2 linked regions of the Homo sapiens genome follow. The protein of the gene in region 1 interacts with the protein of each later gene in a pairwise test. Each region holds a gene or a part of one and is shown in the gene's direction. Other genes may lie near its edges.

Region 1 (9,039 bases):
CTTCACCTTGTACATATGTTCAAATCCCTCCCATCTGAAATGCAAACAACAAAACTCTGAATAGTCCTTTGGTGCTACCTCCTCTCATAACTTTCAATTCATCTCTCCCCTCCCCTACAGTCATGCTTTTCAAAAGAGTTGTCTACATTTTCTGATTCCAATTTCACGCTTTCCTTTCCAAACTCAACCTGTTGATCCTGCCTTCAGACCCCACCACCTCCTAAAACTGCTCTGACTGCAGTCACGAAGACCGTCCTGCTGCTCATCCAGAGGACACGTGGTGGCCCTTGCCTCCATGAACCTCTTTGGAGCAGTTGTTACTGTTGGTCCATCCCTCCTTTTTTTTTTTTTAGATGGAGTCTCATTCTGTCATCCAGGCTGGAGTGCAGTTGTGCAATCTTGGCTCACTGCAACCTCCACCCACTAGGCTTAAGTGATTCTCCTCCCTCAGCCTCCCAAGTAGCTGGGATTACAGGTGCCTGCCACCACACCTGGCTATTTTTGTATTTTTAGTAGAGATGGGGTTGCACCATGTTGGCCAGGCTGGTCTTGAACTCCTGAACTCAGGTGATCGACCCACCTCGGCCTTCCAAACTGCTGGGATTACATGCATGAGCCACTGCACCCAGCCAATCCCTCCTTTTAAAAAATGCTGGGCTCCTTGACTGGGAGGACATCACCCTCTGGTTTTCTTCCTTCTCCCCTCCTGCTTCCTTCAGCACTCACCTGCTCCATCTGACCCCTAAACGCTGAGATTCTCCAAGCTCTACCCTTTGCCTTTTGCTCTTCTCTTTCTGTGTCCTGTCTCTGCGCATCTCATCCACACTCATGTCTTCAACTGCTTGCTGGAAACAGGTGACCCCCATCCCTGTCTTCAGCTAAGACCTCTCTCTCGAACTCCAAAACCACACTTCCCACTGGATCCTGGATACTCAGACAACTCAAACCCAGCGCTTCCCAGATAAAACTCATCTGCCATCCATGTCTTACCTATAGCAGCAAATGAGACCACCAAGCACACCACCCAGGAATCTAGGAGTCATTCTGGCCTCTTGCTCCCACTTCCCTCACCCCTACCAGTCATGACATATTGTAAAGTCAATCTGGCTGTGCAAGGAGAATCACTTGGAAAACTTGCCGAACACAGTTTCCTGGGCCCTATCCACGACTTACAGGATCCAAATCTCCTGGGCTGGGGCCAAGGAATCTGAATTTCTAGAAAGCTCCCCAGGCTGCTGTAATGCCTGACTCAAATCACAGACTAGCCTTAGGGAACCACTGTGGTCTAACCCACTGCCGACATCACCGCTGGTTGCCTAGTTCAGGGCAAAATCCTCCTCCCTGCATCCCTGGTAATATACTTGTCTCCTCTCATTCATTCTCCACGCTGTGGTGGTGGCAACTTTCCAAATATGCAGTAGGACCATGGCTCATCTCTGCTTAAATCCTTCTATGTGGCCACCTGGGAACGCTGCATTCATGACCCTTTGTCCTTAGGAGAGTGCCTTCAGCTCATCTCTTGTCTTACCTCCTACCTTGCTCCCTTCAAGGTATGCACTCCAGCCAGGCCAAAAGATATGTGGTTCCCAAACACATAACCCTGTCCCTGCACGTGTTGTTCTTCTGACTGTACTCCCTCACTCTCACAGCCCCTCTGGATCCACTCCTAAGGTTCAACCCAGGCTGGGCTCAGTACCTGCCCCTCAGGCACTATTAGCCCGTGTGGTGATCACAGAGTTTCTAGGTTATTTCCTCCTGTGTAAACAGTGAACCTTCAAGACAGGACCTGGATCTTGAGTGGTCACTATCCTCAGAGGTGCACCCAGTTCCTGGCTCACAGAGATGGTCAGCAAAGGTTAGCGAATGGAAGGGTAAAAGAAGAGAAGGAGAGAAGACAGGGAGGTCAGAGCATTTCAGGTGGTTCTGCCCATCTGTTTGAAGACCCGGGCCAAGAGCCGGGTCTCTGCCCAGCAGGGGGCCTGCTCTGGATCCACAGAAACACCACGATGGTGGTGGCTTTCTTTGTTTGTTTATTTGTTGGTTTGTTTGTTTCTTTTTGAGACGGAATCTCACTCTGTTGCCCAGGCTGGAGTGCAGTGGTGCGATCTCTGCTCACTACAACCTGGGACTCCTGGGTTCAAGTGATCCTCCTCACTCAGCTTCCTGAGTAGCTGGGACTACAGGGGCGCACCACCATGTTCGACTAATTTTGTATTTTTAGTAGAGATGGGTTTTCACCATGTTGGCCAGGCTGATCTCGAACTCCTGACCTCAGGTGATTCGCCTGCCTCAGCCTCCCTAAGTGCTGGGATTACAGGTGTGAGCCACCGTGCCCAGCCATGGTGGTGGTGTTTTTGTGGCCCTCTTGACTCTGGGGTTTCCCCAGTAGCCAGGAAGGTGATAGCAGCCTGCCCTCCCATTTCCATGTGCCACCTGATGAGATTTGGGTCTTCTGAGAAGTCCTGGCCCCTCCTGTCTGCTCTGGTCACCTCTAAACTTCCATTAACAAGGACAGCAGGCTGGGTGCTCATGCCTGTAATCCTAGCACTTTGGGAGGCTGAGGTGGACAAACTGGTTGAGCTCAGGAGTTCGAGACCATCCTGGGCAACATGGCAAACCCCTGTCTCTACTAAAAATACAAAAATTAGCCAGGCACGGTGGTGCATGCCTGTAATCCCAGCTACTTGGGAGGCTGAGGCAGGAGGATTGCTTGAGCCCGGGAGGCAAGGTTACAGTGACCCAAGATGGCACCAGGGCACTCCAGCACTGGCGACAGAGCCAGACCCTGTCTTAAAAACAAGGAGAGTGGGCTCACAAGGACTCTGGGATCATCTTCCACTCTATGGCTGAACTGGCTGTGCCCTCCTCACTCCTGGACCCTGCTCCCGCCCTTGTTTTGTGCCTGCAGAACGACACCACTGTCCTGTCCCAGTATGGCCAACTTTTGGAGTGGACACCTTCATCTGGCCCCTCTTGCCCCATTCTCTCTCTGACTCCCTCCCTCACCTTCTTCTTTCCCTCTTCCCTCTTTGTCCATCCAATGCCTTTGCTGCAAGAGCTCTCTGTCACCTTTGTGCCTCATCCACGGCCCTCTGACTATCCTCACAAGGTCTCTCTGGGCTGTAAACTAGGATGCTGCTCCAACATTGCTGCCCTCCTCCAGCCTCCTGCCCCAGTCCCTCCCCAGCCCTGCCCTTTAGATGGCTGAAGCCTTCTTAGGGAAGAGTGTTGGATGGGGGCAGAGGCCTGCATTAGCTGGATGGCACTCCTGTTTTGCCCCTTCACTGGAGAGGCACTCAACCCTCTGTGAAGTGGGTTTGATTCTATGGCAGCTCCATCCCTTGCCTCCCACATCCAGGACCTGCTACTTAATTTGCAGATCCCAGTGCAAAATAAAAATTCAGGACTCCTTGTTCAAAAAGTATTATGGGGCCAGGCACGGTGGCTCATGCCTGTAATCCCAGCACTTTGGGAGGCCGAGGAGGGCGGATCACGAGGTCAGGAGATCGAGACTATCCTGGCTAACACAGTGAAACCCTGTCTCTACTAAAAATACAAAAAATTAGCTGGGCATAGTAGCACACACCTGTAGTCCCAGCTACTTGGGAGGCTGAGCCAGGAGAATCATTTAAACCCAGGAGGCAGAGGTTGCAGTGAGCCAAGATTGCGCCACTGCACTCCAGCTCGGGCAACAGAGCGAGACTCTGTCTCAAAACAAACAAACAAACAAAAAGTATTCTGACGTTCAAGCTGGCAATAGCAGAGCATTCCTGCTTTTCCATTTTCCAATCTAACTATCAGGCCCTTCTAAGTGCATGGCCCTGTGTGACTGCACAGACGGCACGTCCAGAATGCCGGCCCTGCCCATGCCCCTTTCCAGCTGGTGATGGCCCCACTCCCCTCTCCTGTCCTCAGCTGCTTTCTTAGACAGATCCTCGGAGCCTCCTGGCAGCAACCCAGCCCCAGCCACCTCCAGAAGTTTCCAGGGCCCTGTTCAGTAGGCACTCAGCACAGATTCCCCAAGGTCCTGGGGGAATCTTCACCCCAGGCCACCACTCACATCCTCCTCAAATCAATGCACAGTTATCGAGCCCCACCTGGCTAAGCCTTAGGAAGGGAGGACAAGTGGATAAACGATCACTGCCCTCCAGGAGTTCAGTTTATAGCAGAGCGAAGACTTGAACAAGAGCAGGACCGGACAAGAATCCTGTCAATTCAGAGAAAAATAATCACAGTTTATTAGGAAACTGAATTTCACAAAAGAGAGAGCATAAAGATGGGCTTTCGTGAATGGGCAAGATTTGATTAACCCGATGAGGAAAGGGGCATTCAAGGAAGAAGCCATGGCATGGGCAAAAACTTAGAGATAATAAAATGCATGGCACGTTCTAGAATCCTGAATTGTACAGTTTGGCTGAGGTGTGCAGATGGTAAAATAGTGGGAAAAAGCTGGAAGGAAAATGTACAGAGAAGAGCTACAAGGGTAATAGTGAAGTGTTTGTACTCCCTTAGTGGAAACACCGAGGGGACTTTAGGTCGTGATGTTTAGGTTATTTGGGAGCAAAGGGAGAAGACTTCCTCCCCTTGGCCCTCACAGCCTGCCCGAAGAGTGCAAAGCCTCACGCTTTTGCAAAACAGGCCGCACCTAGCCCAGATTCTGGAGCTGATTCAGTCCATGCCTCTCGACCCACAGTTTGTCCTGAGCCCTGACAAAGGTCTGGCCCCCTCCTGCACTCGGAACGCGGAGGACCCGCAGCTCGTGGATTCGCGCCTCAGTGCCCAAGCTGGTGTTGATGGGGGTTGCGGTTTCCTGCCACTCACTCCCCATGGGTCCTGTGGGGGGCGTGGGGATGCGGGGAGAGGGTTTCAGAATAGGATCCCGGACTGGGAGGGAAGGGACACCATCTGGGCACACCCAGTAGGTACGACCGGAGGTGAAAAAAGAGTGGGTCCCATCCCCTGATGGCCCCGCTCGCTATCCACTTTAAGTTTATGTTATGGATATTTTCAAACATATTCAAAAGTAGAGAGAAAAGTAGAATCATAACCCAAGTCCACACCGCCCAGCTTCAACAGTTATCCCCTCCAAGCCCATCTTGTTTCAGCTAACCCTCTCCCACCACCCATTTTAAAGCGGGATGTGGGTGTCCTGAGGGAGGTGGAGGCTCCCCAGTTGGAGAGCGGGTGCCCGCACCTCTGGAGGCTGAGGCACAACTGGGCTGGGAGTTGAGCGCATACCGAGTAGGGGCTGCGGGGGAGCGGGGGCAGGGCCGGCGGGGCGGGGCCAGAAGCCCGGCGGGGTTGGGGGCGCTCTCCTAGTGACTCAAGGCGCGCAGCGCTGGGCGCAAAGCGCCAGTCTCCGCCTTGCGAGCTCAGAGTGTGCCCGCTGCGCCGCCGCTGTCCGTACCTGCCGCCGCCGCCACCGCCACCATGCCCAACTTCGCCGGCACCTGGAAGATGCGCAGCAGCGAGAATTTCGACGAGCTGCTCAAGGCACTGGGTAAGCTGGTGCAGAGGGCGCGCCCCGACGGGGAGATGCGGCCCGGAGGTGCCCTGGTCCCGGAAGTGCCCCGGTCCTGGAGGGGGTGGAAGTTGGGGAGCCCAGGCAGGAGGGAGTCCCCGGGGCAATAGATCGCCTTGTCTCCCAGGCGCACCGGGTCTCGGAGAAGCTGGTAGAGATCCCGGAACCCACGCGTTCAGCGAACGTTTGCTGAATGTTTGGCGCCCTCCTCGATGGTGCGGACTTTATCTCGTGCTAGATCATAGCGAGGAGAGATTACTGGAGAGCAAGGAGGATCAGGGACTTAAATTTGGAGACTCAAATTTGGGACCAGGCTCTGCCACGAATTCACTGTGCAACTCGAGGAAAGTCACTTACCCTCTCTGTGCCTCAGTCTCTCATCTCGAAAACAAGGGCGAGGGCAGGGAAACGAGTGGATCAATTTTAAGGCCCCTTTCTAAAGTTAGGGTATGACCAGTGCCCGACCGGTCCCGAGACTGGCGGCGAGGCCCCGTGACCCAAGCCTGTGGTGCACCCTGCGCAGGTGTGAACGCCATGCTGAGGAAAGTGGCCGTAGCGGCTGCGTCCAAGCCGCACGTGGAGATCCGCCAGGACGGGGATCAGTTCTACATCAAGACATCCACCACGGTGCGCACCACTGAGATCAACTTCAAGGTCGGAGAAGGCTTTGAGGAGGAGACCGTGGACGGACGCAAGTGCAGGGTGAGGCCCCAGAGCCACTACAGCGTCCCCGTGTCCCCGCTCGGTGCCCATGGCCCACTGCTGCTGGAGGAACCTGTGTCTCCCTTTGCAGCCTGTGGCGCGCCTTCCTTGCAGGGTGTGTACACTGGCTGTTTGCAGAGGGGGTTTGTGCATCCTAGTTGCCCCTGGCTCAAGACAAAGTATTACCTTCATTCCATCTCAACCCCATCCCTACGCTGCCTCCCGGGGTGCTAACAGCCGCGCTTAAAGAGCGGGCTCTGGGTTGCGCCGCGTTCCCAGCAGTGGCTTTTGCAGCGGTTTGCAGCGCCAAGCGCAGGCGGCGCAGGAGGAGGAGGAGGTTGCAGGAGCCGCCAGGTTCTCTGTCGCAGGTGAAGCCGCAGCTCTTGCATTCCTTTCCCGCCGTATCCCCCGCGCCCGCCCGGGTCCCTGGGCCGCCTGGGTACGCTCTGGATACAGTTTTAGCAGTCCCGATGGCCCCGTCACCTCTCCCTTCCCGCCTTCGGCCTGGTTCCTTAAAGGAACGGCGGAGTCTTTCCAAAAGCAAGGCAGGTTCTGGCTGGGAAAATGGACTAGTTGCCCTCTCTTAGTCCTCAAGGGCAAGAGTTTTTTTTTATTTCTCCATGCATCGGCCCAGGGATGAACCGGTGGATTGAAGCAAGGGGTTGTACATTCGTTTTTTGCATGGGCAAAAATTGCATTTGGTTAACCAGATGGAAAAATAATCACCGGTGCTACCACTTATTTAAAAAGTGACAGAATGTCTCCCTCCCCTTCTCCAATTTTTTTTTTTTAAAGAAAAAAGTCGTAACATTCCAGAGAGTGGGAAATTGTTTCTTTCACCTTTCCTGAGCAGTGCCTGGTCTGATCTCGGAATGGGACTCTCTGAGCACCGGGCTTGGAAGGACAAAGAAACAAAGCCCCCCAGAAGCAGGCTGATCTAGGAGGCAATCTTTGGCTCCAGAATTGTCATAGCCTGGAAATGATCTCCACGCTTGGAGGGGGTGGGATCTGAAGCCTAAACTGCACTGCAGAAACAAAGAGCAGGACAGCATAGAGTGAAGGGCTGGGAGTCTAAGAGAGGAGGCTTGGCAATAGGCAGGGCTCAGTCTGGGGACATCCAATGTTGGCTACTGCCAGGAAGGGTAATTCTGATTTAAAAAAAAAAAATTAAAGGTTCACACAACAGCCGGGAGAGTGGGGCTTTATGCACCCCCCATCCCCCCACACCTTGCCTAATGAATGTGTCCCATGTGTTAGTTAAAAACTGATTATGTGCACATTCAGCTCTGGCCCACCCCCCAGCCCAGCTGTACCACACTTAGCTTTGTGCAGACACTGGGGAAAAACTTCAGGAAATCCCTCCTTTTGCCTCCCACCTCCAAAAGCATGAAGAGCCTTCAGATTGATTTGCTTTTTAAATTTTTTCTAAAGGGATGTAACCGGGAAAGTGGCAGCATTTTAACCCTCAGAGCCAAAGACACCGAGGTTTATCAGTGCAGGGGTGCACTAAATCTGATGAGGAGTGAACAGAAAGGACGTTCCTATCCCAAAATCCATGCAGGGAATCGTGCTCCTGATAGGCTGATGACAGATGTGGTTACAAACTTGGTGTCTTAACTGTTGTCAAATCTTGTGGTTCTGATGTGAAGGTTCTTGCTTTTAAAATCCAAATTATGTTCACCTGAGGTCAGGAGTTCGAGACCAGCCTGGTGAAACCCCATCTGTACTAAATATACCAAAAAAATTAGCTGGGCGTGGTGGCAGGCACCTGTCATCCCAGCTACTCAGGAGGCTGAGACAGGAGAATTGCTTGAACCTGGGAGGTGGAGGTTGTAAGGAGCCAAGATTGTGCCACTGCACTCCAGCCTGGGCAACAGAGCGAGACTCCATCTCAAAAAAAAAATGAATAAAAATAAATAAAATCCAAATTGTTTGAAGGGTTAGCTAATTTTTATATAAATGAATCATTTCATGCTCTAAATTTTATTCCTAGAGATGTAAAGCATGCCTAAGGCCTCGCTGCTTCAGTAAGAGATTGTTTGTGTGTGCTTGTGAGTGTGTGTGTGTGTTATACAAGGTGTATTTATACCCCATAAAATCTGTGACCAGCACTCTGAATTTGGACTTTATAAGGCTCAGCGGAGAAGAATCTGTGGCCTGCTGACAGGGACCATGTGTTGATTCTCTGCAGAGCAATTATTTTTCAATGCTCATTGTTGTCCCTGCTCCCGCTGCTGAGACTCTAATTAATGTCACTAATGGTTTTCCCGCCTGCAGAGTTTAGCCACTTGGGAGAATGAGAACAAGATCCACTGCACGCAAACTCTTCTTGAAGGGGACGGCCCCAAAACCTACTGGACCCGTGAGCTGGCCAACGATGAACTTATCCTGGTAGGGAACCCTTGACCCTGAAATAATCCTGAAGTTCCCCCAGAGGGGGCCCCAGATGGGCCCCACAAATATGTCCTCCTCACTCGGCCGTTCAGAGAAAGACACCATTTGCCCTGGATTAAAATTAGAGCAGAAAACCCGAGATGACAGTTCAGGTCAGAGGAAATCATTGTTAAATGGTTGGCAGGAAAGAGGAGTGGCTCAGAGGATGGAATAGGGGCTGGAGACAGGCTGGAGTGCCTGCCACTATCCACACTAATACATCCCAGTGGCGGTGACATGCTTTAAGCCAAGCTCCCCTCTCATCAGGCTTGGAATGCTTAGGCTCTATGAGGTCCCCACGCTCACATGGCAGAAGGGATTTTTTTTCATTCTCATTCCCCCTTTTGCTGGCTGGAAAAGGTTTCAGTAATTTTTATCACATC
Region 2 (7,214 bases), on another chromosome or scaffold:
CACAGGATGCAGCAGGGGAGTCTCAGGCCTCAGCTCAGCCCCCATGGCATCTAGCCACACCCCCGTGTTTTTGAGGGATCCTGAGCCCACCCCTAGGGCTGAGGCTACCAAGCCCCACTGTGCCTCTTGCCTTGCCCATCCCCTGGATCCCCCTCACCCACCATTTCCCACGTGGGGGGCTCCCAGCAGGGCAGCACAAGAGGCAGGGGCAGGGCAGTGTGCCCTCTCCCACCCACCCAGCACAGTGGCTCAGGTGACCACTGATTGCATTAGTCACTCCGGCCCCACTGTGCCCCGGGAGGCAGGTGACCCAGCTCCCGGAAGAAGCTCCCAAATGACATTAAAGCCAGACTCCCCGCCCCCCAGCTCCCAGAGCCAGTTTTGTGGCCCGAGGGCCACTGCGACCCACCGCCCTTGTTGCTAGGCAACAGGAGGTGGGGGTGGAGCGGACCCTTCTGGCCAGTGTCCTGGACGCTCAGGGGCCAGTGAGACTCAGGGCCCATCCTACAAACCTGGATGAGGCCACCAGGGTTGGGGGCACCTTCTGACCAGTGGCTGAGGAGCCGGACTGTGTGGCATGGCCTTGGGACACACACACCGAGCCGCCCAGAACCAGGTTAAGCCTCAAGCGGTGACAACTCCTGGTTAGGCACGTAACACAAAATCCAACTTGCCAGTGGCAAACCCTGGCCTGGTGGCCGACAGCTGACCTGAGCCTGGAAGAACGGGATCTGTGTGCTGCTAGCACAAAAGTCAAGGGCAGGGCCTGGCCAGCCAGCCAGATGTGCCTCCTCCCCGCCCACCCCACCCTCTCTCTCCATCTCTGTCTCTTTCTCCTTCTCTCTCTCTTCCTGCTTTTGCTCCCTAAGACGTTTGAAGCCAAAATCCACCATCTAGAGACCCGGCCCGCCCAGAGGCCGCGAGCTGGGGGCCCCCACCTGGAGTACTTCGTGCGCCTCGAGGTGCGCCGAGGGGACCTGGCCGCCCTGCTCAGTGGTGTGCGCCAGGTGTCAGAGGACGTGCGCAGCCCCGCGGGGCCCAAGGGTGAGGCGGTTTTCTGTCCTTGAGGGCCACCAAATGACCTTGAGAGGCTGGGGTGCAGGGGCTCCTGCAGGGGGACCCTACAGTGACCACGTGGTGGTGGCCTGGTTCCCTCTCTGCGGGCTCCACTCCGCACCCCGTTTTGCTACACATCCGTGTCCGGGCCTGGGGCCACTCCAGGATCCCCCCGCAGCTCTCACAGCCCCGGCTGCCTCTGCCCCCCGGAAGTCTTGTAGGGGAGGCTGCTTCAAGGTGGGTGACACAGCCCCACGGCTCCGAGCTCACCAAGATCTCTTCCTCCATCACCCATAAAGTCCCCTGGTTCCCAAGAAAAGTGTCAGAGCTGGACAAGTGTCATCACCTGGTCACCAAGTTCGACCCTGACCTGGACTTGGACCACCCGGTGAGTGGTGCGCCCCTCACTCAGGCCTCCTGCCCCTGATCACATCCCCTACCCTTAGCCCAACCCTGGACAGGAGTCTGTCGGCTCCAGGAGCCTCCGTGGCCTGTGCCCCCACCCCAGCACAGCCTCCTGACCCGTGCATCCCCTCTGCCCTCAGGGCTTCTCGGACCAGGTGTACCGCCAGCGCAGGAAGCTGATTGCTGAGATCGCCTTCCAGTACAGGCAGTGAGGGGCCCCTGCGCTCGGGACCCAGACTCCGTCCTGCAGGCTGACGCTGGACCTGGGGGGTGGGAGGGAAGGACAAAGGGGAGGACCCATCTTGTCACCAGCATCAGTGCCTCCTGCCAGGCAGCTCTGCTCCAGGGCTTTCCATGTCCCCAAATCCCAGTGGGGAAACTGAGGCCCAGGGGGGCTAGAGCAACCTGCCGAGGCCACATAGCCGGCTCACGGCACAGTCAGCTGGGGTGCACCCTCCTGTCCATCCTCCAACCCAAAGGCCTCGCTGCACTAGGCGGGTGTGGACCTGTGCCCAGTGAAGCTCCCTCCCTCCCTCCTGCCCTTCTCACTCCCCGAGGGGACCTGCTGACCACTGGCCCCCTCCCCAGCGGCGACCCGATTCCCCGTGTGGAGTACACCGCCGAGGAGATTGCCACCTGGTGAGACCTCCGTGCAGCTAGGGGCTGGGGAGGAGCCCGGGGGATGCCTCCTGGAATCCTGGCGTGTGAGGGCCGCCTCCAGGGACCTTGGCACAACAGGAGAGACTAAGGCCGGGAAGAAGAGGGACTTGCAGGGCTCAGAATGTTGGGTTGGGAGGAAGAGGCTACCCATCCTGTCGGGCCATCCCCAGTGTGCTGAGGGACCGCCCCTCATGGCCCCCTATCCCCTGGGATTCCCTAAAGCCACCAGCAAAAGCCCCTCCCGGGGGCCTGGGTCTTCAGGGGTCCCCAAGAGGCCTGCGTTGGTAGGGGCTCAGGCAGGCAGAGGCACCCACAGTTCAGGAGGGGGGTTTCGGGCACTGGGGTGGGGCATTAGAGGGCCCTGAGCCTGGCTGCCCGCAGGAAGGAGGTCTACACCACGCTGAAGGGCCTCTACGCCACGCACGCCTGCGGGGAGCACCTGGAGGCCTTTGCTTTGCTGGAGCGCTTCAGCGGCTACCGGGAAGACAATATCCCCCAGCTGGAGGACGTCTCCCGCTTCCTGAAGGGTGTGCCCAGACGGGAGGGGCGCAGAGCCGGGGGGCCGGGGATGGTCAGCCAAGCGCCCCACCCCAGCGCGGCTCCAGCCCGTCCCGGCTCGGCAGTGACCCGCGTGGCCCCTTGCAGAGCGCACGGGCTTCCAGCTGCGGCCTGTGGCCGGCCTGCTGTCCGCCCGGGACTTCCTGGCCAGCCTGGCCTTCCGCGTGTTCCAGTGCACCCAGTATATCCGCCACGCGTCCTCGCCCATGCACTCCCCTGAGCCGTGAGTGCGCGCCCTGGCCGCCAGCCCGAGGGTGGGGGGTGCGACGGGCGGCCCCTCAGCCCCCTTCTCCCTCCTACGCGCAGGGACTGCTGCCACGAGCTGCTGGGGCACGTGCCCATGCTGGCCGACCGCACCTTCGCGCAGTTCTCGCAGGTACGCCGCGGCCTCGGAGGGAGCCGGGGTCACCCAGGGGCTGGCTTGGCGCCGGGGGCGGGCGGGGATCGATGTGCGGGTGGGTGAAGTGTGCTGCCTGCTCCCGGGCCCCGCCAAGGAGGCTCGGCGCCCCGAGGGTCGCGCGGCATAGGGCGGGGCTGGAGCGGAGCCTCCCACGGCCTGTGCTGCCACCTGCCGGCTACCTGGGAACGGCGCCCACGGGCTTAGGAATGTGGTCAAGGAGGGCTGCCTGGAGGAGGAGGCCCGGTGGAGGTGCGGATCCTGGGCGGCCAGGGAAGGTCTCTGCCGCCAGGGAAGTGTCCCAGAGACCCCTGGAGGGGCTGCTGACACCCCCGGTGCCCCCACCTCGAGCATGACCCAGGGCTGCCTCTCCCCATCCTTCATCCTCCCTGCTCCACAGGACATTGGCCTGGCGTCCCTGGGGGCCTCGGATGAGGAAATTGAGAAGCTGTCCACGGTGGGTTGACCCCTCCCTGCAGGGCCTGGGGTGTGGGTTTGGGGGTCTGAATCCAGGCCTCACCCTCTTGCCGTCCAGGCTGAGGCCTCTCCTTCCACCCACGAATTGTGACCCTCACCCTGGCCTGCCTGCATCCTGGCCTGGCCTCCCTGGGGGTGGTATCCTGGTCACGGGTGACCAGGGGCTGCCCGGTGGGCGGCAGCTGTCTCTGGGCTGATGCTGCCCGGCTTCCCCGCAGCTGTACTGGTTCACGGTGGAGTTCGGGCTGTGTAAGCAGAACGGGGAGGTGAAGGCCTATGGTGCCGGGCTGCTGTCCTCCTACGGGGAGCTCCTGGTGAGAGTCTCTCCTTGCTGCAGCCCCCAGCAGAGGGGCAGGGCTGGGGGACGGTGCAGGGAGGGGACAGGCTCCCAGTGGGAGGAAACTGAGGCCTGGACCTCCAGGACTCAGGCTCTGTTTGGGAGAAGGCTTGTCTCTGCCCAGTCCTCACCCCACATTATCCCAGGCCTCCGAAGGCCCGGCGGGGGAGATGGGGGTGACTCTACCCAAGGAACCCACCCAGCGTCAGGCCACGGTGCCCCAGTTCCCTCGGGGACCTGGGTGCAGTGGAGTCAGTGATGCCATTGGCCTCCTGCCAGCACTGCCTGTCTGAGGAGCCTGAGATTCGGGCCTTCGACCCTGAGGCTGCGGCCGTGCAGCCCTACCAAGACCAGACGTACCAGTCAGTCTACTTCGTGTCTGAGAGCTTCAGTGACGCCAAGGACAAGCTCAGGTGGGCTAGGCTGCTAGGGCAAGCCCCCCATGGTGCCCCCAAACTGGGCCAGCCAGGCCTTCCTTCTGGCCTTGAGCAGGGCTGGACCTGTGAGCCCAGGTCACAGATGAGAAAACCGACCCCTGGTTGCAGCAGCCCCCACACAGCAGGGACACCATCCGTGAGAAGGACCCCAGCGTCTGGGGAGGGGCAGACCTACAGGACTGGGGGCTGCTGGGTGGCCGGGTCAAGGCCAGTCTTGGAGGTGCTGACAGAGCCTGAGCTTTGTGAGGACGTCCTGTGGAACCTGTCCCGGCCCCCTGCCCTGGGATGGGGAGAAGTCAGGGGGATAGACAGAGTCAAGGTGGGGGACAGGGCGGGAGTGGGGTCCCCAGGGCTGGGGGCCTTTGGTGCAGTGACCAGAGTGTCAGGAGAGGGGAGCAAAGCCCTCTAGCCTCATCCTCATAAAAGGTCTCATCATTTTCCCTCCAGCCTCTTATGCACTGGGGAAACTGAGGCCAGGGGCTATGTGTCCAGCGGACAGGGGTGCTGAATTCCACCCACAGGCTTAGGGATATGGTCAAGGAAAGCTTCCTGGAGGAGGCCCAGTGGAGGTTCAGGGAGGGATGGGGTGCCCGGCAGTCTCTAGTGGAAAAGGCGCCTAGCCTATCTCCCCCATGAACCCCCTCACCCAGCCCTGGAAGAGGCCTCAGTGTCCCGCCTGTGACCAGTTGGCTCAGAAAAGCCCTGGGAGCTCTGAGCCACTGTGAAGGTGGAAACGCGGCCCCTGGCCTCCCCTCTCCTGGAGGCTGCAGACTCTGCCCGCCAGTTGACGAGGGCTCTGCCGCTCTCCTCCCCAGGAGCTATGCCTCACGCATCCAGCGCCCCTTCTCCGTGAAGTTCGACCCGTACACGCTGGCCATCGACGTGCTGGACAGCCCCCAGGCCGTGCGGCGCTCCCTGGAGGGTGTCCAGGATGAGCTGGACACCCTTGCCCATGCGCTGAGTGCCATTGGCTAGGTGCACGGCGTCCCTGAGGGCCCTTCCCAACCTCCCCTGGTCCTGCACTGTCCCGGAGCTCAGGCCCTGGTGAGGGGCTGGGTCCCGGGTGCCCCCCATGCCCTCCCTGCTGCCAGGCTCCCACTGCCCCTGCACCTGCTTCTCAGCGCAACAGCTGTGTGTGCCCGTGGTGAGGTTGTGCTGCCTGTGGTGAGGTCCTGTCCTGGCTCCCAGGGTCCTGGGGGCTGCTGCACTGCCCTCCGCCCTTCCCTGACACTGTCTGCTGCCCCAATCACCGTCACAATAAAAGAAACTGTGGTCTCTACACCTGCCTGGCCCCACATCTGTGCCACAGAGACAGACCCTGGGATCCTCAGACTCCCACACCCCCACCCCAGCCTCACTCAGAGGTTTCGCCCTGGCCTCCTTCCTCCTCTGGGAGATGGCTGGCCGCCCTGGCCAGGCAGCTGGCCCCTCCGGGCCTGGTTTCCCCGCTCACCCTGAGGCCCCGCCCAGCTCTGAGCCCCAAGCAGCTCCAGAGGCTCGGGCACCCTGGCCGAGCTGCCCCATCTCCGTGGGGTGCCCTCCCAAGGTGGGGAGCCACGTGACAGTGGGAGGGCCTCTCTCAGGCCTGGCAGGGAGCAGGGGTCACAAACTGTGCTGGCTGGGGGTGGTCTCAGAGGTGGGCCTGCAGGCCTAACCCTCCCTGCTGACAGGGCTCCCAGCCCTTGAGAGAAACAGGGATGGAGGAACAGCTGCCCTGATGCCCTCACCCACCCGGAGCAGGCCCTGCGAACCAAGGGGAACCTCAGTGTGGCCCCCAGCATGTGTGCTGATGGGGAGGGTCTGGCTGAGCTGGTGCCCAGGCAGATGGTCTGGGCCTGTCTCCCCAGCGAGGCAGGATGGGGGCTGGATTTCAGACTCTGTAAGATGCCCCTGGCTTACTCGAGGGGCCTGGACATTGCCCTCCAGAGAGAGCACCCAACACCCTCCAGGCTTGACCGGCCAGGGTGTCCCCTTCCTACCTTGGAGAGAGCAGCCCCAGGGCATCCTGCAGGGGGTGCTGGGACACCAGCTGGCCTTCAAGGTCTCTGCCTCCCTCCAGCCACCCCACTACACGCTGCTGGGATCCTGGATCTCAGCTCCCCGGCCGACAACACTGGCAAACTCCTACTCATCCACGAAGGCCCTCCTGGGCATGGTGGTCCTTCCCAGCCTGGCAGTCTGTTCCTCACACACCTTGTTAGTGCCCAGCCCCTGAGGTTGCAGCTGGGGGTGTCTCTGAAGGGCTGTGAGCCCCCAGGAAGCCCTGGGGAAGTGCCTGCCTTGCCTCCCCCCGGCCCTGCCAGCGCCTGGCTCTGCCCTCCTACCTGGGCTCCCCCCATCCAGCCTCCCTCCCTACACACTCCTCTCAAGGAGGCACCCATGTCCTCTCCAGCTGCCGGGCCTCAGAGCACTGTGGCGTCCTGGGGCAGCCACCGCATGTCCTGCTGTGGCATGGCTCAGGGTGGAAAGGGCGGAAGGGAGGGGTCCTGCAGATAGCTGGTGCCCACTACCAAACCCGCTCGGGGCAGGAGAGCCAAAGGCTGGGTGTGTGCAGAGCGGCCCCGAGAGGTTCCGAGGCTGAGGCCAGGGTGGGACATAGGGATGCGAGGGGCCGGGGCACAGGATACTCCAACCTGCCTGCCCCCATGGTCTCATCCTCCTGCTTCTGGGACCTCCTGATCCTGCCCCTGGTGCTAAGAGGCAGGTAGGGGCTGCAGGCAGCAGGGCTCGGAGCCCATGCCCCCTCACCATGGGTCAGGCTGGACCTCCAGGTGCCTGTTCTGGGGAGCTGGGAGGGCCGGAGGGGTGTACCCCAGGGGCTCAGCCCAGATGACACTATGGGGGTGATGGTGTCATGGGACCTGGCCAGGAGAGGGGAGATGGGCTC

Evidence for each region. Proteins that work in one complex are often made in the same cells at the same time.
Region 2: the proteins of CRABP1 (region 1) and TH interact in binary tests that used the Homo sapiens proteins (3 or more experiments, as listed by UniProt).

Annotation. Positions count from the first base shown.
Region 1 is NC_000015.10:78,334,999-78,344,037, forward strand, and holds the start of CRABP1 (cellular retinoic acid-binding protein 1), read left to right. Parts: upstream 1-5,354; 5' UTR 5,355-5,430; coding exon 5,431-5,500; intron 5,501-6,044; coding exon 6,045-6,223; intron 6,224-8,500; coding exon 8,501-8,614; intron 8,615-9,039. UniProt on the Homo sapiens protein: Cytosolic CRABPs may regulate the access of retinoic acid to the nuclear retinoic acid receptors.
Region 2 is NC_000011.10:2,162,321-2,169,534, reverse strand, and holds the end of TH (tyrosine 3-monooxygenase), read left to right. Parts: intron 1-869; coding exon 870-1,044; intron 1,045-1,355; coding exon 1,356-1,444; intron 1,445-1,601; coding exon 1,602-1,669; intron 1,670-2,049; coding exon 2,050-2,100; intron 2,101-2,502; coding exon 2,503-2,648; intron 2,649-2,766; coding exon 2,767-2,902; intron 2,903-2,985; coding exon 2,986-3,055; intron 3,056-3,476; coding exon 3,477-3,533; intron 3,534-3,771; coding exon 3,772-3,867; intron 3,868-4,169; coding exon 4,170-4,303; intron 4,304-5,142; coding exon 5,143-5,302; 3' UTR 5,303-5,606; downstream 5,607-7,214. UniProt on the Homo sapiens protein: Catalyzes the conversion of L-tyrosine to L-dihydroxyphenylalanine (L-Dopa), the rate-limiting step in the biosynthesis of catecholamines, dopamine, noradrenaline, and adrenaline. Uses tetrahydrobiopterin and molecular oxygen to convert tyrosine to L-Dopa.